2 separate regions of the Homo sapiens genome follow, and region 1 is linked to region 2. Evidence: fine-mapped expression QTL. Tissue or cell type: whole blood. Region 2 holds a variant in brackets; the other region holds the start of a gene. All regions are shown on one strand. Distances are from middle to middle.

The links. PIP is the estimated chance that this variant, and not a neighbour inherited with it, causes the effect.
Region 1: MIATNB starts here. The variant in region 2 is fine-mapped to the expression of MIATNB in whole blood (Lepik 2017, PIP 0.95).

What each region holds. Positions count from the first base shown.
Region 1 is chr22:26,667,905-26,677,742 of GRCh38, reverse strand. It overlaps MIATNB (MIAT neighbor), which reads right to left and starts at 4,900. Exons shown (of 6, transcript NR_110543.1): 1 at 4,756-4,900. It overlaps MIAT (myocardial infarction associated transcript), which reads right to left. Exons shown (of 5, transcript NR_033320.3): 5 at 1,265-9,585. RefSeq lists enhancers at 8,584-9,166, 9,167-9,750.
Region 2 is chr22:26,720,756-26,731,534 of GRCh38, reverse strand. All of the region lies in intron 2 of MIATNB (MIAT neighbor), which reads right to left. Among named protein-coding and RNA genes, the nearest start is that of MIATNB, 53 kb to the right of the region's middle. The variant T/C (reference allele first, on the strand shown) is at 6,134.

The DNA of each region.
Region 1 (9,838 bases), 53 kb after region 2:
ACACAGAATGAGGTTTCAGGGAACACTTGCAGGGCATCAAGCGCTGTCTTAGCTCTGCAAGAACGCTTGGGAACCTTCACAATGGCCCTATGAGGTGGGAGTGGTCTCCCCATTCTACAGAGCCGATGGAGGCTCAGGGAAGGGCAATCATCCCCAAGATCTAACAGCAGGTGTGTGGCAAAGCTGGGATTCAAACTGAGGATTATCAGTAGTCTCAATCCTAAGACTGACTCCAAAGTTCTTTTAAAACTTGGCTACCCAGAACACTGTTCTGAGAAAGAGCCTGAAAATGCACCCAAGTTCCCAAAGAGAGATAGGCAATCAACTTGCAATGTCTGTCAAGGATGCTGAAGGGAAGAGTGGCGATGTGTGTGGCTTATATTTGCCAGTCCTTCACGATCACACACTAAACTCTATCTTTTTCTCTGTCACCAAGGAACTCTTTGACTCCCCAGTGAAGTATAAGATCCCTGGCAGGCCATGCGCGGTGGCTCAAGCCTGTAAACCCAGCACTTTGGGAGGCCGAGGCGGGCAGATCACGAGGTCAGGAGATCGAGACCATCCTGGCTAACACGGTGAAACCCCGTCTCTACTAAAAATACAAAAAATTAGCCGGGCGTGGTGGTGGGTGCCTGTAGTCCCAGCTACTCAGGAGGCTGAGGCAGGAGAATGGCGTGAACCCAGGAGGCAGAGCTTACAGTGAGCCGAGACCGCGCCACTGCACCCCAGTCTGGGCAACAGAGCAAGACTCCATCTCAAAAAAAAAATAATAATAAAATAAACAAATTCCCTGGCAATAAGAACCTGGATTTCTGGAAGCACTGCCCTAGGCATAAAGAAGTGTTATTTTTTAAAAATACCACCAGGCACAGTGGTGCACGCCTGCAGTCCCAGCTACTCAAGAGGCTGAAGCAAGAGGATCGCTTGAGACCAGGAGATCAAAGCCAGCCTGGGCAACATAGCAAGACCTCATCTCTAAAAAAAAGAAAAGAAAAATAAATACCAATGGTGATAATGGTTGCACAACAATGTGAATGATACCACCAAGATGTTCACTTAGAAATTATTATGGTGGTGAAGTTTTATGTTATGATTATTTTACCAAAATTAAAAAATAAAATACCCTATTATATTGACTTCTAGGGTCACTCTTGAGGAAAGGCTGACTCACCGAGAGAGCCCACCCCTGCTCCTTGAGAATGCCACTGGCTGCCCCCTCTCCCCTAAACAGCACGTCCCTTCTGCTTCATAGGCCACAGTCATGTTTCCAGCGTGAATTGATTTTTAATAGCAAAATGGCATTTTACACAGAAGCAGCTACATTCATGGATGAAAACAAAAATCCAAGTGACGCTCCTTTGTTGAATCCATGTAAAAATCTGATTTTTAATCTACAGAGAAATTTCTACCCACACATTCGGTATCCCCTGGGGGTAATGACATGGAAAACAAACATCTTTTCTGGTCTGTTAAAGTAAAACAATGGGTCCCTGGATAGACTCTCAAGAGGGCCTTTGATGGAATGGAACCAGTCCCCCCACCCCGAAAGCATCCCCCCAGCTCAACATGTCACCATTTACACCAGCACAGCCCTCACATTGGGTCCACAGCACAACCTATTAAGAAAGGATTATAACACCTGTTCGGATTGGGAGGCCAATTCCTCAGCTCTAAGATCCTGCTCATAGCAAGCTTGATGTTCAGTAGACTCCAAAGCAGACTGAATGAGGGAGGGGTCGAAGAGAATGTGCCTGCTTGGGCTCAGCCTCCTCTAATATTGTCAAGATGCACACACACTCTTAGAATCTCACAACCATCGCCAATCTCTATGTTGGCCTAGTCCCAATCCTTCTGCCTCTGGGAACAAAAGGTTCATTACCCACCAAGGCATATTTTTCCCTCTCTGGGACCAGGATCAGCTCTTGCAAGCTTACTCCACACTTGTATCTGCCCCTTGCAGCCATGCATGACAAATGGGCTCCCTCCCCAATGGAATTATCTTATAGACTTGCAGCCTATGACTGTGTTTCCCCTGATCTTCTCCAGGGACTTCCCACCACCATGGGATGACATGTTTTCAAGATTGCTCCCCTTCCGAGCCTTTATTTTCACCTTGGTCCTCTTTACTTTCCAGTCATTGCAGAGATACTTCCAACTGGGGTAGACATGTATGGATTCTGTTTATCAAAAGATGGACCAAAGGGTCTTCCTAGTTTCAAAAAGTTCTGCTCAGTTGTCTAAAATGTGGCCAGAGGCCATTGCAAACTCCTCTGAGTTCCACCTGGGCTGGAAAAGCCAAATGGCCAGCCTAAAACTCAAATCCACTAACTCCCTTTCTCAGATCATATCCGTCGCTCCCCAAGGCCTAAGGATAAAATCTAAACTTCTTGGCAACCAGACCCGGCACCATGTCCATGTCTCCTATCTCTTGCTACATTCCACATGAACCTTCCAGAACCTCTTTGGATCCTCTCTGATCCCCAGAAACTGGTGTCCACCACTCTCGCTGCCCGGAACTCATCCCCACCCACACTCCACCCAGCCACAGCTCAGCTTAGATGCCTCCCTCTCCAGAAAGCCACCACAGGGTGGATTAGGTGTCTCTCTGTCCCCATTCCACCCCCCTGCACCCAACACACTAGAATTAAAGCTCCTGAAGACCAAATGGTGTTTAACTACCACTACATCCCCAATGCCTGGCACACGCCTGGCACAGAGTAGGTGCACATCAATCTTGTCTGTCTCCTTGGTGCTCCCACAGACCCCTGACCAATCATAACACCCATCTCACTGAATCACTATCTACTTCACCAACTCTCCCACTAGGCTATAAAAGCACCATGACGAAAAAGCCCAGGTGCAGGTCCCAGCGCCCAGAGCAGTGCCTGGCACATAGTAGATCCTTAGCAGCATCAAGTCTTTGCAGTTAAACAAAGAGGAGTTTCAGGAATAGGAGGTGTGAGCTTCCTGCTTTGAGTGAAATGGAGCAAGGCAGCCACTAGAGGATGGCAGGCAGGCACTTCCGGGTGTAGACTACCCCATCCAAGGTCCCTGCCAGCAGCCAAGGCATGTTCTCAAAGCTCTTTCTAAGACATCTTTTCTCTCTTGTGCCCTCTGCAGCTCAGGCCTCTGGATCACCCTTCACCCCCACTGCCAACTACAATTGGTTAGCTCTGAGTCCACAGTTGCCAGAGAAAAGGGCTCTCAGCACCAGACTAGCATTCAACGACCCAAGCAACCTGCCTCTAAGGTCTGTAAGCCAGCCTTTGACCTGTCCCTAAACTGATCCAATCCTCCAGGCCCTGCCTTGAACTGTCTTCTCCTGCAGACTCTGACTACCAGACTGAGTCAGCAAAACCTTGAACTAGTGCCACCTTTTACCTGCACCTGGAATCCCTTGCGTATGCTCCCTGCCCCTCTACTCCCAAAGGACGTTCCCTCAGTCTAAAGAGATCAAAAGTCCCTTCCAGAAAAACTCCCGTTTCCTCGGTGCAGCTAAATTGCACAGAAGAGTTTATGCTAGAAGAGCTAAAAGTTAGAACAGGAAGCTCAGATAATTTATACTACTAACATGTAAATGACTGACGGAGTTATAACCCTTCTGAATACTCTGATCTAAAGCTTTATGTCCTAGAACTTCCAAAACACAAAGTCCCCAAAATGAAGACTCTAGGCCCTGGCCTGGGGAAGGGTGACTCTATACAAAATGGCATATGCTCTGTAGACACCAGACAGGTATTTTAAGGTTTATAAGAGCTGCATCTACTTGTGCAAACTACTGTAGCTATAAGGCTATATTTTTTTAAGAACTGAAACCAAATGCAGACTATGAGGAGTGAAGATATGCCCAATGGCCAAAACCTTGCAAGACTGGCTATACTTCTGACCCCACCTTGGTGGGTACCACTGCTCCATCAGGCCTGGTCCACACCAGAGCCCTGGCACCTCCTTTAGAAAACTACCATCTTTACCGACTTCTGATTGTTCTGACTCAGAGCAGCCACCACGCCCAAAATTGTTAGCTATGCTTTTCCCTGTGTTAGTCAAGTTCAAACCTGTGTTAGCCAAGTTCAAACCTGTGTTAGCCAAGTTCAAAGCTGTGTTAGCCCCTTCCCAGCCATGCCGACATCCAAGCTGTTAACAGTAACGAGGAATGTTAGACCTGTTGTTAGTCAGAAAAAAATCCACAAACCATTAGTTTCTGCTGAAAGGAACAGACCAGGAAGGCAGGAGTTAGTCAAGGTGAAGGAAAGGTTAATTAAGAACCGGTCAGGGCCAGGCCAGGAGCCTGGAACCCCCAGACAGGGCCAGGTTGGTTGTTAGTGGTCAGCCCCTGGGGCAGTCAGGGTGAGGCAGGGATTAGCTGGGTGAGAGCAAGAGTTAGCGCAAGGGAGCCAGAGATTAGCCCAAAGAAACCAAGGTGCCTACTGGAGGTGAGGCATGAAATCACCCCCAGGTGTGGCCCCGGCTTAGCGGCTGGCGGGCTCTGGGGGAGGCTGGCTGAGGCAGTGACGTCCGTGGGAACAGAGAGCCAGAGATGCATTCCTGGCCGGCCTGAGCATCTGCGGGAACCCTGTGAGCCCCTGAGGTTCACTTCTTGCTCCCCACTTCTCTCTCCTGCAAACTCCGAGCCCGGGGTAAAGCTGCTTCCCCTCCCCACACCCCTTTTCAACCCGACAACTAACGCCCTCTAGCTTCCGGGAATGGGACGGATCTTTCCCAAGGACTTCCGGTCACGGCCCCACGTCTACTTACGGTGGGGGAAACCGGCCTCTCTCGGCTCCAGAGAGGGGAGACGGCTCTCTAGCTGACTTCCTGTGTGGGAAAGAGTCCTCTCACTGACTTCCGGTGTCAGAAATGTCCCTCTTTCCGGCCTTCAAATATGAGAAATGTTTCTCTGGCCGACTTCCTGTGTACTAAATACTCCACTCAGTGGTTTTTAGCGTAGGAAAGACCCGCTTCATTGACTTCCGGTGTAAGAAAGGCTCCGCTTTCTGACTTCCGGTGTGGGACACGCCCCTCTGCTAATTTCCGGTGAGGGGCACGCCCCCTCCTGCCTTCCTCGTGGGATACGCCCCCCTCGTGACTTCCTGTGCAGGACAGCTTCTATCCCCGTCACTTAACAATGGAGAGGATTCTTCCCCAGCTTCCTTCCAGAGGACACAAAAGCTCAGAGCTCCACAGTCTAGAGTCTAGACCAACAGGCCTCCACACTCACGTCCCAGAGATTTCCCTGGTCCCACCTACTCCCAGTGGCAACCAGACTTCTGCACATAGGAGAGATGTCATACTCAGAGTCCAGCCTCCCACATCCACAGGACCACCTCTTCCTCCTCTGAGTCTTGTTAATAGGGCCATCCCCTGCCTTAGACCTGGCCCAGTGGACTCTGATCTTACAGCCAATATGGGGCAGCAAAGTGGGACATCTGTCTACAGGGCCAGTAGCCCCAGGTCATCTGCTTGCCAAAAGGAGGGGGACCAGCCCCCGGGGGGAGCCCAGAGCTCGGCAGGGCTGGGGTTAGTAAGAAGAGAAAACAGGGTTAGTAGGGGCTGGGTTAGTAAGTCAGAGCACAGCACCAGCGGACAGGGCACCTCAGCAGACACACACAGGAGTCGCTAAGAGAAAAGGAAGAACGCACGCAGGTCCGTTAGTTTGTTAAGGGATGATCGGGGTGCAGTTGAGGCACCCCAGGGGTTAGACGGGTTAGTAATCGAACAAAAGAGCTGCCTACAGAAAAGAAAGCTGAGACGGAGGAAGAATGTGGGGAAGTGACATGGATTCAAAGCCAAGTGTCTTGCCCCAGGCAGAAGGATCTGTGTGCAGAACACCCAGAGAGGCCAGGGCCTAGGCAGCAGACGTGTTCAACCAGGTTTGAGGGGCCTTCCTCCATCCTCATACTTTTTTTTTTTTTAGGTGTCTGCCATGTGCTGAGACCCTTATATTGACGGGAATCCTCACTGCAACCTGTAAGGTATCAGAACTCGCATTCTACCACTGAGGAAACTGAGGTTGAGAGAAGTGAGGTGACTTACTCAAACTCACTCAACAGGAAGTGGCAGAGTTGGTGAGTCTTATTTGCATTCTCTGTCCTGGAACGTGGGTCTGCACAAAGATCCCAGCCCATAGGCAGAGCCTTCTGGAGCCTTGGCTGCCCCCATATCCCAGCCCCTTGAAAGGCCCATGAGCTGCACAGTTAGTAGGATCTGGCTGCGGGGGGGTGGTTAGTAGGGCATGCTCGGGCCTGGTTAGTGGGTTAGTTGGTTGGCAGAAGGCCAGGCACCTCGTCACACGCCACAGCGTCCCGGCTGAGCCCTGGGTTAGTAGGTTAATCACACCATGCAACACTGCCCCGGCCCCTCCAGCTGCAGCTTCAGAGGCCTCCCGCCCCCACCAGCCAGGGAGTGGGGCCTGACCAGGGCAGGGGGTCTAACTCTAAGCCCCCCAGCCCCATCAAAATCAACCCTAACCACATGGACCCTGCCCAAAAGCATGTTGCTTCCCTATTTATTGGCTGTGGGTCTCAGAGCACCCCCTGCAAATATTTCAGCTCCCCTGAAAATGGACCCTACTTGTCCTAGACAGAAACCCCCTGCCTGGTTCTGGTCAGCCCCTTCCCAGAGGGCTGGATCCTGTTACACTCTGACAGACACACGCACACCCGCATCTCTCCGCAAAAGATCTGACAACCGTGCTTAGTAGACATCTCTTCCATCACCGACTGTCAGGCCTCTAGTTTCTCCAACTATTGGCCTGCCCTCCCACCATTAGAAAAAAAAAAAACGCATCAAGCTGGCCTGGCTCCTGGAACCAAGTTGAGACTCCCCCACGCCCACCCGGTCTGCTTCCTTTTCAGCCAATGCTACAAAGCACCTAAGTGTACCCTAATTATGCCATCTTCTATCACTGCTGTACTTTTCCCATAGAAACCCCAGCCTAGCATCTCCCACAGTTCTAAACGATGTTCCATGAGAAAAAGATTCTACGGCCATAAAAGTCAAGGAACACTTCATCCTATGCCCTGTCCCTGAGTATTTGAAATTGCCATTAGCATTTTAAAGGTTCTGATAAGTCCTGCACTACTTCAGTAGTGCAGCGGAATTTGAATTAGAACCTGCTTTTTTTTTTTTTTTTTTTTTTTTAAGGAGCAATGACATTTCCTAGAAGTTACTTTAAGAATTTCCCTAGAGGGTCGGGTATCATCTCAGCCAGATCTTTCTCATCCTTCAAGGCCCTGTTTGGTACAGCTTGCTAGGAAGCTGTTCCAGACTGCAGCAGCCCTCTCTGGGGTCTCTCTACCACTTCCCAGGCACTCAGAACTTGTGCCTCAGTAGACTGTTTTGTGGCACTGTCCCATTCTCTGATTCTCCATGTGAGCTGGTTTTATCCCATCCAGCATGGCTGTGAAATCCTAAAGGTTCAAACCCCAGCCACTCTTCACCTATATTTCCCCCAAATGGCTAGCACGGGAAAGGGCCCAAAGTAGGTGCTCAGTGCTGATGAGAGAGTAGAATTTAAATACCCCAGGAAGCATTGTGAGTTACTACGGAGGCCATGAAATGCTGCCACCTCCCCAAGCTGATTAAAGAGTGATACTAGGAAAATAGGTAGGGAAGGGCTAATCAGAAATGCCTCTGGTTCAGAAGATGCTGAGTTTTAAAGTCCAGAGAGCCAAAAAAAAAAAAAAATAGATAAACCCTAAGTCTATACTCCCAGATGGATGGGAGCATTTGCTGAGCACCTACTGGGAGTCAGGCACTGTGCTAGGCACACAATCTCACTGAATTCTCCCTGCACCTGACAGGCAAGCACATTCCTTCCATTTCACAGAGCATCGGAGGCTCAGAGGTGAAGTAACTTGCCCAGGGTTGTAGCCCAGGCCCTTCTCAGGACACGGCTCTCCCAGGGCCTCCGCCTCCCTGCACTGAGCCCTGCCAGTTCCATATGTCCTCCGAAGCACTCCTGAGCCACCCCAGCATGGTACCTGCCACTCTCCGTGTCTGCTTCCCATACCTCTCTGCTCCTCCTCCCCATCCCTGGGTGGGGGCGGGAATTCTGAAGGGGAGAAGGCTCTGACTTTCCATGTTTGCGGTGACCACCCTGTTAAGAACTGAATGGTGTCCCCTCCCCCAAATGCATATGTTGAAGCAGTAGCCTGCTATGTGACTGTTTTTGGAGATGGGACCTTTAAGGGGTTAAGGTTAAATGAGGTCATAGGTTTAAGCCCTAATATGGTGATATTAGTGTCTTTATAAGAAGAGGAGGAGACACCAGAGCCTGCTCATGCTCTCTGTCCCTCTCCACAGAGAAAAGGCCATGTGAGGACATAGTGAGAAGGTGCCACCTGCAAGCCAAGGAGAGAGGCCTCACCAGAAACCAAGTCTTAACACCTTGATCTGGACTTTCCAGCCTCCAGAACTGGCAGAAAATAAATTCCTGATGTTTAAGCCATCCAGTCTGGCATGGTGCTGTGGCAGCCCAAGCTGATGAATAGTACACACCACTCCGCATTCTGGGAAAAAGGACATCTGGCTTTTAAACTTGCCTAAGGGAGGCCACAAGCTGCTCTCTTGCAAACGCTGGGACTGTCTCCTCTGGAGGGAGCTGGAATTGCAGATTGTGGGGCCTGTCCTGCCACCTTCTGTTCCCCAAGAACAGAATCCAGGAGCAGTGCAACTAGAAGCAGCGATCTGATTGGAGAAGAGTGTCCTGAGACTGGGCTAAGGTGACCCCTTAAGCCTTTGGGTAAGACTGGTTCCCTTTGGATGGCAGGAAAAAAAACCCAGGGCCACCTGTCTCTTTCTAGTGAATTTCCCTAGCCTAAATCTTATCTCTTAAAGACCCTCTCTTTTCAGGATGGTGCACTCTCAGCCCCTCTGGCTGCCCCTCCCAGAGTTCAACAGCACAGGGGGAAGGCTCCAGCTCCTCCCAGATCCTGACTGTCTCCTCTTTGTAACCATCAGGGAGAGGAAAAGCATGGAAAAGCCCCACCAAGGAAGTCCCCCACAAAATGACAATTACGCACTGAGCAAATGGAGACAAAGGACTCCAGCCAGCGGCACCCGAGGAGCTGCATCTGCCCTCTGCCTGACAGCCCCTCCCCGACTCCCATCCTTGTTCCTGTCCCCATCCTGTAGGGTCCTTTGAGACCCAGCCTTGGGGAAAGTGTGGTCAGTGGGGACTTGGCCCAGGCCAGGCTCTGTCTGGTCACCGGCAGAAACGCGAGGAGGAATCAAGTTCACATGGGGCAGGAAAGGGCCCCCAGACCCAGACAATAGGGCCCAGCAGGCAGGGCCCGAGCAGGTGAGGAGGGAGTAGTGGGCTGCCAGGCCTCCCTCATACCCCTGGAGCTGTCCTCCAGAGCCAGATCAGTCATCTGCTGAGCATCAACCAGGAAGAGTTCCTATCCATGGGAGGCTCCATCCCAACAGGTGTGAAGAGGATGAGATCTTCAGGGAGTCACCCAGCGGGCTAGAAAACCACCGGAGTCTGACCGCTAAGTCACTGTGGCCAGAATCCAAGGTCACCCGAGGTCCAAAGAGAAGTCCAGGCCAGGAGTCCTGGAGATGCGGCCCAGATGGAGCCACCTGGGGGAGAAGACAGCGAGTGAGGATGAGGCCACAGCCTCCATCCCCAACTTCCCACATCCCCCCAGCCTAATTCTGCATCTGAGGGGACTCATGTTCAGAGATCCCCCCAGTCTCTCATGCCCCCAGCACACACACAGGGTGGAAGTGAGGGTTTTGGACATGAAACATTTTTAGAAGAAACTTAGGCCAGGCACAGTGACTCCCACCTGTAATCCCAGCACTTTGGGAGGCTGAGGAAGGAGGATCACTT
Region 2 (10,779 bases):
TCAATTAAACCTCTTTTGTTTATAAATTACCCAGTCTCAGGTAGTTCTTTATAGCAATGCGAGAACAAACTACTACACCATCTTTATTTAACATTTTGATATTTTTGATTTTTTGCATTTTGATTTCTGAAAATACTACATTATAACATTATTTATCTTGATTACTGATTTTTTTATCACTGCTTCTGTCGCCCCTTAAATTTTGCACCCCAGAACAGTGCCTCATTTGGTTCATTTCCTAGTGTTGGCCCTGCAAAGCAGCACACTAAGCATGCTAAGGCCTGGGAAAACTGAGGAAACTAAACAGACACACAAATTACCCTCCTGGAGCTCTTAGTTTAGCAAACGAGGCAGATAAAAGCAAGTAAACAAGCAGATAAATAGAAAAATTATAAATTACAATAAGTCAAATGGTAGGAGCATGCCACTGAGAAGGGTGATAACTTACTCAGATGAAATGGTCAGCAACAAGCAACACCTTCTCTAAATCTCCAAGCTTCAAAGCCCCCGTCATTTTCCCCAATAGATTCCTAGTGTGCATTAAAGGGTTAACTTAGCAGACTTACGGTGTTCACACCCTGCATGTTCCAAAGAAAGCACCTGACTGACTGCTGGGAGAGTAACTCTAAGCTCTTGCAGTATCCTCCCTAACTCAAGTGTCTTTGTATACCTGGGCACTTGGGCCAAACCAGGCCAGACAATCTATGTAACCATGTGATTATATCACGTTGACTTCTGGAGGGGCTGGTGACCAAGTAATTAAGGTCATTCCATAGGTAACTCCACACCTATGTGACTGACCTCCAATTAAAACCCTGAACACCAAGGCTCAGGTGAGTTTCCATGGTTGGCAACACTCGATACATGTTGTCACCCATCATTGGTGGGAGAATTAAGCATGTTTGTAAGATTCCACTGGGAGAGGACAACTGGAAGTCTCTCCTGGACCCTGCCCTATGCACCTTTTTCTTTGGCAGATTTTAATCTGAATCCTTTTGTTGTAATAAACCATAACCATGAGGATAACAGGTCTTCTGAGTTCTGGGAGTCCTTCTAGTAAAGAACTTGAAATCACTCATGGAACCTGTCAGTGGTCCTGCGGACCCACAATGTAGTGGTTCTGATCTATCACAGCACTCATCACAGTTCATGACTGTGTGTATTAGTCTGTTCTCACGCTGCTAATAAAGACATACTGGAGACTGGGTAGTTTATAAAGGAAAGAGGTTTAATTGACTCTCAGTTCTGCAGGGCTGGGAAGGCCTCAGGAAACTTACAATCATAGTGGAAGGGGACATAAACATGTCCTTCTTCACGGGGTGGCAGGACAAAGAAGTGCCAAGCCAAAGGGGGAAAAGCCCCTTATAAAACCATCAGATCTAGTGAGAACTCACTCACTATCACCAGAACAGCATGAGGGTAAATGCCCCTGTGATTAAATTACCTCCCACCAGGTCCCTCCCACGACACGTGGGGATTATGGGAACTACAATTGAAGATGAGATTTGAGTAGAGACACAGCCAAACAATATCAATGTGTGTGTGTGTGAGGTCATGTGACCATAGACTAGACTTGCAATGTCCAACACAGCTGCCACTGACCAAATGTGGATGCCTAAGTTTAAATTAATTTAAATGAGATAAAGTTAAGACTTCCTCAGTTGCACCAGGCACATTTCAGTTGCAGCAGTCACATTTGGTTTGTGGCTACCACATGGAATGATTCTATCACCCTGAAAGTTACACTGGACTACACTAGACTAGATGGTGAGGCTTCAAGGGCATAGGGACTCCTTGCGACTTATTCATATCTGCGTTTCCAAGACCTCACACACAGTGGACACTCAATAATTACCAGTGAAAACAAACAAAAATATATTAAAAGACTAAATAGTGGAAAGAGCTCTTTTCCCCGCCCTATCTCTAATGCCGTGTGCTCTTGAGCAAGCTACTTGGCCACTCTAGGCTTTAGTTTTCCCAGCTGCAAAGATGTGTGTGTACTCTAGGGGTTTAAAGGTCCCTTCTGGCCATGCATGGTGGCTCACGCCTATAATCCCAACACTCTGGGAGGCTGAAGCAGGTGGATCACGTGAGGTCAAGAATTTGAGACCACCCTGGCCAACATGGTGAAACCCCATCTCTATAAAAATACAAAAATTACCCAGGCATGGTGGCACATGCCTGTAGACCCAGCTTACTCAGGAGGCTGAGGCAGGAGAATGGCTTGAACCCGGGAGGTAGAGGTTTCAGTGAGCTGAGATCGTGCCTCTGCACTCCAGCCTCGGTGACAGAGCAAGACTCTGTCCCAAAAAACTAAATTAAAAAATAAAAATAAAAACAGGTCGGGTGCGGTGGCTCACACCTGTAATCCCAACACTTTGTGAGGCCAAGAGGGGCAGATCACCTGAGGTCAGGAGTTTGAGACCAGCCTGGCCAACATGGTGAAACCTTGTCTCTACTAAAAATACAAAAAAAAATAGTTGGGCGTGGTGGCAAGTGCCTGTAATCCCAGCTACTTGGGAGGCTGAGGCAGGAGAATCGCTTGAACCCAGAAGGGGGGGGTTGCAGTGAGCTGAGATCACACCACTGCACTCCAGCCTGGATGACAAGAGCGAGACTCCATCTCAAAAAAATAAAAATAAAGATAAAATAAATAAGTAATAATAATAATAAAAGTAAAGGTTTCTTCAGGTCATGATATTCAAGACCAGGATCATAACAGAAACCTTGTGGTCTGGTGCCCTTCTCCTTTCACTGTGTGCTAGGTATAGCCTGAGACGGAATGGACCAGCTGTCAAGGGAGCTGAACAAACAGTGAAGGAATTGAGAAACAATCACTGGGTTTGCCCCAGTTGAGGAACTCTTCAAACTGCAAGCTCCATGATGGCATAGATTTGTTTGCCTCTTTGCTCATGGTTGTGTCCACCTCGAGTTCTAGCACAGTGCCTGGCACAAAGTAAGTGCTCAATAAACATTTCTGGAATGAGTGATTGACCCTAAGCACTGAACTTGCAGAGTCCAGAGATTGGCTCAGGGAGCATGTCCTTTGTCACATGTGGCACAACTCTGTGGCACCAGCCCCTGGCAGGATTAGAGCCCTTCACTAATAAGCCAATGGAATCAGCTTGGACCCCACTTGGTGACTTTCTGCTGTCTTGCTGCCTCATGCTCCAGTCCCAAAATGACCTTCAAAACCTATCTCCATCGCTGCACTGCTCAAAATCCTTCAGTGGCTCTCTGCTCTTCCCAGACAAAATAAAGCAACGTTTTTGTTGCATGTGACAAGGCATGAACTATCTTCATTTCTTTTCCATTTGAGAGCTCATGTTTTGCAGCAGGAAATTTGTAGCCAACGTTGGTCTGATACAGTGAGGGTACAACTGCTCACTGATACAGTGAGGTTACCTGGCTTGCGTCCTACACTCATTGCTATGATTTGAATGTTTTGTCTTCTCCAAAATCATGTTGAAACTTAATCCCCAATGCAGCAGTTTTGGGAGGTGGGGCTCCACCCTCATGAATAGATTAATGCCACTATGAAAAGGGTTTGCTAAAGTGTATTCACTCTCTTCTGCTTGTCTGCCATGTGAGGACACAGAGTTCACCCCTCTCTTGCCCTTCCACCTTCTGCCATGTGAAGATGCAGTAAGAAGGCCCACACCAGGTACCAGCATATTGATCTTGGACTTTCCAGCCTCCAGAACTGTAAAAGGATACATTTCTGTTCTTTACAAATTGCTGGGTTTCAGGTATTCTGTTAGAGCAGCAGAAAACGAACTAAGACACTCAATCTCAAGTTCTTCCTTTTGCTCTCCAATCTGGGCCTCCAAATCCTCCATCCAGTGCCCACCAAGTCCCCCGGCTATCACGCCTTGGGCATTGTCTCCTTTGCTATGCATCATACACCTTGATATAGTTTGGATATTTGCCTCTCCCCTGAAAATCTCATGTTGAAATGTAATCCCCAATGTTGGAGGTGGAGCTAGTGGAAGGTGTTTATGTCATAGGGGTGGAAGCCTCATGAATGGCTTGGTGCCCTCCCCATGGTAATGAGTTACCACAAGATCTGGTTGTTTTAAAAGGGACTGACACCTCTTTCCCACTCTCACTTGCTCCATCTTGTGACATGCCTGCTCCCCCTTCACCTTCTGCCATAATTGGAAGCTTCCTGAGGTCCTCCCCAGAAGCAGATGCTGGCGCCATCCCTCCTGTATAGCCTCCAGAATTGTAAGCCAAAATAAACCTCCTTTGTTTATAAATTACGCAACCTTGGGTATTCCTTTATAGCAATGCAAAATGGACTAACACACACCTCTCATACTATTAATAGGTCATCCAAAGAGCTTCTCCCCTAGGAGATGGGGCACAAGTCCACATACTCAGCAGTCTCCTTGAGGCTGTTGGCTCATCCATCAACCTTCTGAACCTCTGTTTTCTCATTTGTACAAAGATCTGAAGTTATTTTCTGGATATCCCTTTCCAAGACCCTTCCAAACTGCTGACACTGCTCACACTTCTGTACCCTCACCCCACCCCTGGAAAATCTGTTCCAATCTTATTGAACTGCATGTAAACCCCCAAGCTCACCATCACCTTACCAACCTTCAGGCCTTTGTCCCTCTACTCCCTCAGCCCAGCACACCCTTTCCTTCCCCTTCCTCCAACTTTCAAGATTCCACTCAAAGACCAGCCCCCTAGGAAAACTTTCTTTCACATTCTCCATCCTCAGGTGGAACTTACCCTAGTCTCCTCTTCACCCCAGCCATTTTCCATGCACAAATTACCACCCTGTGGCATCCAGAGCACTTTCTTACACATGCTTGCTAATCCACGAGTCTCTGCCTTCCAGACGTCAATCAACACCCTGAGAGCAGAATCTTCAGTGTTCTGTCTTTGTAAAGCAAAGAGATAAAATCAGAACAGTTTGGGAGTTGGAGCCCAGTGGCTTCAGGTTGAATTCTGGCCCTAGCCCACACACATTCTGATCTTAGGAGAATCATGAATATCCCTGTGCTAGGTCATATTATTGGCCCCAGCTCTTTATTCCCTCCTTTGTCTGTGTTCTTTGCCATGTGACTTTGCAATTTATCCCACTAAAGGAGCAGAGCATATTTCCCTGCCCTTTGACTGTGGGTTTGGGCATAAGACTTGCTTTAGATAATAGAATGAGGAGTAAGTGACAGGATGCCTGTTTTAAAAGATGTGTTGCAGGCTTTAATCCATTCTCCTGCACTCCTGCCTTAAGAAGAACATTCTCAGGCCAGCCTTCTGCTCCCAGGAGGTTCAGAAGCATGTGGAGCTGAGCCACCTCAGCCGAGCTCCCCATGCAGAGCCCAGCCTTGACAAACCAGCCCTAAGCCAACTTGCAAATGTGTGAGCAAGAATAAGTGATGGCTGCTGTGAACCACTGGATTTGGGGGTGGTTTGTTACTCGGCAATAGTTGGCTGATACACTCTCTTCAACTCAGTGTCTTCATCTGAGGGATGATGATAAGTTCCTTGAGGGGCTATCATAGGATTAGATTACATTGTGAATAAAGTATAAAACTCAATGTCTGACTCATCGTAAGTGCTGACAAATGGCAGCTATTGGTCCCCCGAAAATTTCAACATAGATTTATGCTATGACCCAGAATGTCCACTTCTAGGTATACACACAAAAGAATTGGAAATAGTCATTCAAACAGATACTTGTACACAAATGTTCAGAGCAGTATTATTCATAATAGCTAAAAGGTGCAAATGACTCAAGTGTCCATTGACAGATAAATGGGTAAGTAAAATGTGATATATACATACGATTAAATATTATTAAGCCATAAAAAGAATGATGTCCTGGTATATGCTACATCATGGTTGAACCTTGAAAATATTACGCTAAGTGAAATAAGCCAGACACAAAAGATAAATACTGTATGATTCCACTTACATGAAATATCTAGAATAGGCAAATTTGCAGAGATAGAATGTAAATTGGAGGTTACCAGGGACTGGGGGGGGCGGTGGTAAGGAGGAATGAGAAATTGTTGCTTAATGGGTACAGAGTTTCTGTTTGGGGTGAAGATTTGGAAACAGATAGTGGTAAGGGTTGCACAACATCATGAATGTAATTGAAGCCACTATATTGTACACT[T/C]AAAAATGGTTAAAATGGTGACATTCCTGTTATATGTATCTTACCACATTTTAAAAATGGTACTTAGGTGTTCAAGACAATCCTGGATGACCCAGAAAGACACTGTCTTTATAAAAGATAAAAAATGAAAAAAAAATAGCCAGGTATAGAGGTTTGCCCCTGTAGTCCTGACTACTTGGGAGGCTGAGGTGGGAGGATTGCTTGAGCCTGGGAGTTCCAGCCTGCAGTAAGCCATAATTGCACCACTGCACTCCAGCCTGGGTGACGGAGTGAGACCCTGACTCAAAAGAAAAAGGCAGTTATTGTATTTATCTGTTCAGCAACTGTACATAGTAAATGCTGAGTAAAAGTCTGTTGAATATTGCTGGAATAAAGGAGATGACCATTAGATGGATAGATGCACAAATAACCAAAGAGATAAATAAGTGAATCAGTTAATGGTGAGCAAGTGAAGAAACCATATAAGCTCTTTACCGTGGCCACCTATTTAGAAGATGTACGACAACCAGGACATGGGACCCTACAGTCTCATGTAGAATTAACTATATTGAGAGCTATAAGTATAAAAATCACACAAAGTAGAAAAGGCAACCTAGGGGATCCATGCAGACCTGCAGTCTCAGGAGGGCAGAAAGCAGGTCTGGGATGATAGGGCACAAGGACAGTGGCGCAGCAGGGGACACCAGAGGCTCCAGCAGTGGAAAGAAACACATGGTTGCTACAATGAGTAGCAACTCCGGCTGGTGGAAATGAGAGCGGGCTGCAGATACAGGGCTGCTACCTGCAGGGTAATATGTGTTATCGGGTTGATCTTGCCCCTCGGGGAGCCTGGGGAAAACCCAGGTTCTAGAAACCAGAAACAGTGATGATGAATAGAAACCCTTGCACAAGCACAACACTTTAAAATGTAGACACCACTTTCCCGAGGATCTGCTGACTTAGTCCTCACAACTACCCTGTGAAGGTTTATCTTGTTATTATTTCTAATAGGCGAAGAATATAAGGCTCAGATGGTTGACGGAATAGGTCCAAGGTTACCTAGCGCACAAGAGGCAGGGAGCTACCTCCCAGGGACTGGCTTTATTGGCTCCATTGAGAATTCCATTGGCCCCATTGAGAACTTCATCAGCCCCATTGCTGCCCAGTGAGCGCACACAAGGCAGGGGTGGAACTTGAACCCAGGTCACTTCACCCCCATATCCTACGCTCCTTCAAACACACCCTAGGAGAAAACCTTCCAGTGGTGCTAGGGTTTCAATGTGTGTCTCCTCCAAAACTCGTGTTGAAATTTAACTGCTGTTGGGAACAGTAGTGAGAGATGGGACCTTTGGGAGGTGGATGGGTCATGAGGGTTCTGCCCTCATGAGTTGGATTGATGCCATTATAAAGGATGACTTTGGCTCCCTTTTGCCTCTTTTTTGCCTTCTGCCATGTGAAGATGAAGTGTTTTGTTCCCCACGTTTGGAGGATGCAGCATTCCAGGCACCATCTTGGAATCAGAATCTCCAAGCCTGCCAGCACCTTGATGTTGTCCTCCCAGCCTCCAGAGCTGTGAGCAATAAGTTTCTGCATGTAAATTACTTAGTCTCAGGTATTCTCTGATAGCAGCTCAAACAGACTAAGACAAGTGGGGAAAAGCAGAAATCTCTCCCCTGGTGTGTTGATCTTGGATTTGAATCACAGCTTTTGTTACTGGCTAGTTCTCGAATTTGGGGAAACTCACTTGAATCTACGTTCTGATCTGTAGAATGGTAATAAATGAATCTGCATTATCACATTGTCCTAAGGACGCAAGGTAATGCATGCAAGTGTTTAGTATAGCATCCATCCCATAACAGGAGCTCAGTGCAGTCATGGTCACCTTTATTTATCATCTCTTCCCTCTGTTCCTTTTCCCCCTCACCCTCCCCTCTTTACTCCCCTTCTTCCATCTCTTCCTGGATTCTCTCTCTCATCTCTCATTGTTCTCTTGTCTCCTCAGGGAACACATCCTCCCCATAAACCCACACTTCCCACATTCCTCCATCTGGCCCCTCAAAAACCCACAGGTCCCTGTCCTAGGGAATAGCAGGTAAATGTGAAGTGTTGAGTAACTCCTTTCCACAGGTCTGGGCCCCCTGGCCTGTCCATCCCCGCCATGTTCCTCTGCTCCACAGGTTCCATGCCCTTGGTCACACTGCCTTGTATCTTACATTCCTGACTTTATATCTACTTTGAATAATAACTCTCCCCACCTTGGTGAGGCCACAAATTATCACTAATCTCCAGGCGAGATTAAATGTTGTTAACATTTGGTTTCTCGCGTAGATTGGAGGATTCCAGGCTAAGGGGAAATGGATGGAGGAGGGCTGAGGTGCATGCTGATACCCAAGCCACAGGCAGGCTCTGCAGGAGAAACCAGCACAGCAGAGCGGGAGACACAGGAGCAGGCTCTGGAGCCCGGCCACCTGGAATGAGTCGCAGCCATGCCCCTTCTCATTCGTGTGACCTCAGAAAGGGGCATCACCTCTCTGGGCCTTAATCTTTTCATCCACTAAATGGGATAATTATAGAACCAGATGAGAGAATGAGCATGGAGCCTGCACAGAAGGAGAGCTTTAAGCAATTATGAGAATGAAGGGAAGCGTCATTTCTCAAAGTCCATGGACTTGGGCCTGAGCCCCACGCATACTTCTTCTCCAAGCCCTACACTCTCCAGAGTTATGCATTTGGGGGAGCAGATAGAGAGTGCTGAGCAATTCCTCCAGGGGTACAGGGCTCTCTGGACCCAGCTGTTTGGACACATCTGGGATGGCCATTCCCCCTCTCGCATCCCACCAACCCCAGTCTCCCAAGCTAGGCCCTGCTGGGTCCCAGGCCCACCCTTTGGCAGCCAAGTAGAGCTGCCCCTCAATGAAATGTGATGAATGGTGGCCCTGAGAGCCATCAGCTTCCCAACTTAACTGACATCCCACTGCTTCCTTCTTTAGGAATTCCGATTTTCCCTTCACAGACTATCATAAAACTATGCTAGAAGGTCTCCTTCCAACACCCACAGAGATGATTCACCCAAAATGTTCATGAGCAAACATTGCAGAGGAACAACCCCTAAGGGGAAAGTTCTCCCAAAGACCTACACATTATTCTTCACTCAGTGCTTCATCTCTCTAGAATCCTGAAATTTTGGAGACAAAAGAAACCCTGAAGTTCCTCTGCTCCGCAATGTAGGCGAGTGAACCAGGACAGGGCATTCACAGCAGGGAACATTTATTGAGCACTCTCTGTGTACCGTGCACTGCACCAGCCAACTCAGGAGCATCATCTCATTTCATCCTCACGCAATCTGTGAGGCAGGGCTGCTGCTAATCCCATGGCACTGGAGGAAACTGAAGCTCAAGGTGGTGGATCCACTCCCACCTATGGGAAAATCCAGAGTCACACAGCTACAAGAAGAGCCCAAACCTGCCTGGCTTCAAAACAGGTGGTGAGCTCCCCATTGCTGGAGGTATCCAAGAGTCTGCCGAGGGACTTCAAGTATTCAGGAAGGGGGAGACCCCAAGATCAATGCCCCGTGGATAGTCTCCATCTTCAACAGGGTTTCTCAATATTGGTGCTATTGAGATTGTGAACTGGATAATTCATTGCTGTAGAGAAGATTGTCCTGTGCATTGTGGGATGTGGAGCAGCATCCCTGGTCTCTGCCCAGCAGACGCTGGTAGCACCTCCTCAATCACGGCAACCAAAAACATCTCAAGACATGGCCAAAGGTCCCCCTGGGGCAAGGGGGACAAAATCACCATATGAGAAGCACTGTTCTACAAGAATTTTTGAAAAAGCCAGCAGACATCCATGGAGACCAGCGTTGACAATGCAGGGAGAAGTTTTACACCCCTGCGGTACCTTCTTGGGAGACAGTTGTGCACTGCAGCAGCCCTTATATCATGGCAGAGATGCTGCATATCTGCTCCTCTGTCAGCATCCCAAAGGACCAGGAGGAATACTCGGGCACATTTAGAAAAGAAAGAGAGAGGAGACCCATGACCCAAAAATACGACATTGGAATTGAGGCACAATTTGACCTAAATGCAATAAAATTGTGCCATTAGTTCCAGAGCAGCAAGCACTACCCAACCCACTGATAACTCCGAGCTGCCACTAGACCTCAGTAAGCCTCAATATATTTTAGCCTTGATTTAAAATGGAAGAATCTGCAGGTCAGACCTGAAAAGATCCTTAGAAAGTAGAGATCTGCTCTCTGGTCCTGTGTTGTGAGTGTGTCGTGAGTGTGTCGTGAGTGTGTCGTGAGTGTGTCGTGAGTGTGTTGTGCGGTGGGGGCGGGGGTGCTAGCCATCTCTGTCGGGCATCTTCTTTTGGTGCTCCCCGCAACCCCCACATTGCCTCTCCACCCTTCTCCCCATGTGGACTTCAATGGACTGTCTTGCCCTCCGCCTTCCGATTTGGTTCTGCCAACTGGAGGCCCAGAAGGAAATCAGGGGAAGGGGAGATGGAGTCAGCGTACTTATTCCCCCTGCTCCTGCCTGCCAGGGTCTCTGAGGATTGGCTGCATCCCTTCACTGAAGGTCTCAGCCAAGGATCTTGTCTACCTCGTCACCTTCTCCCCTTAACTCTTTTTTTTTTTTTTTTTTTTCTCTGAGACGGAGTCTCGC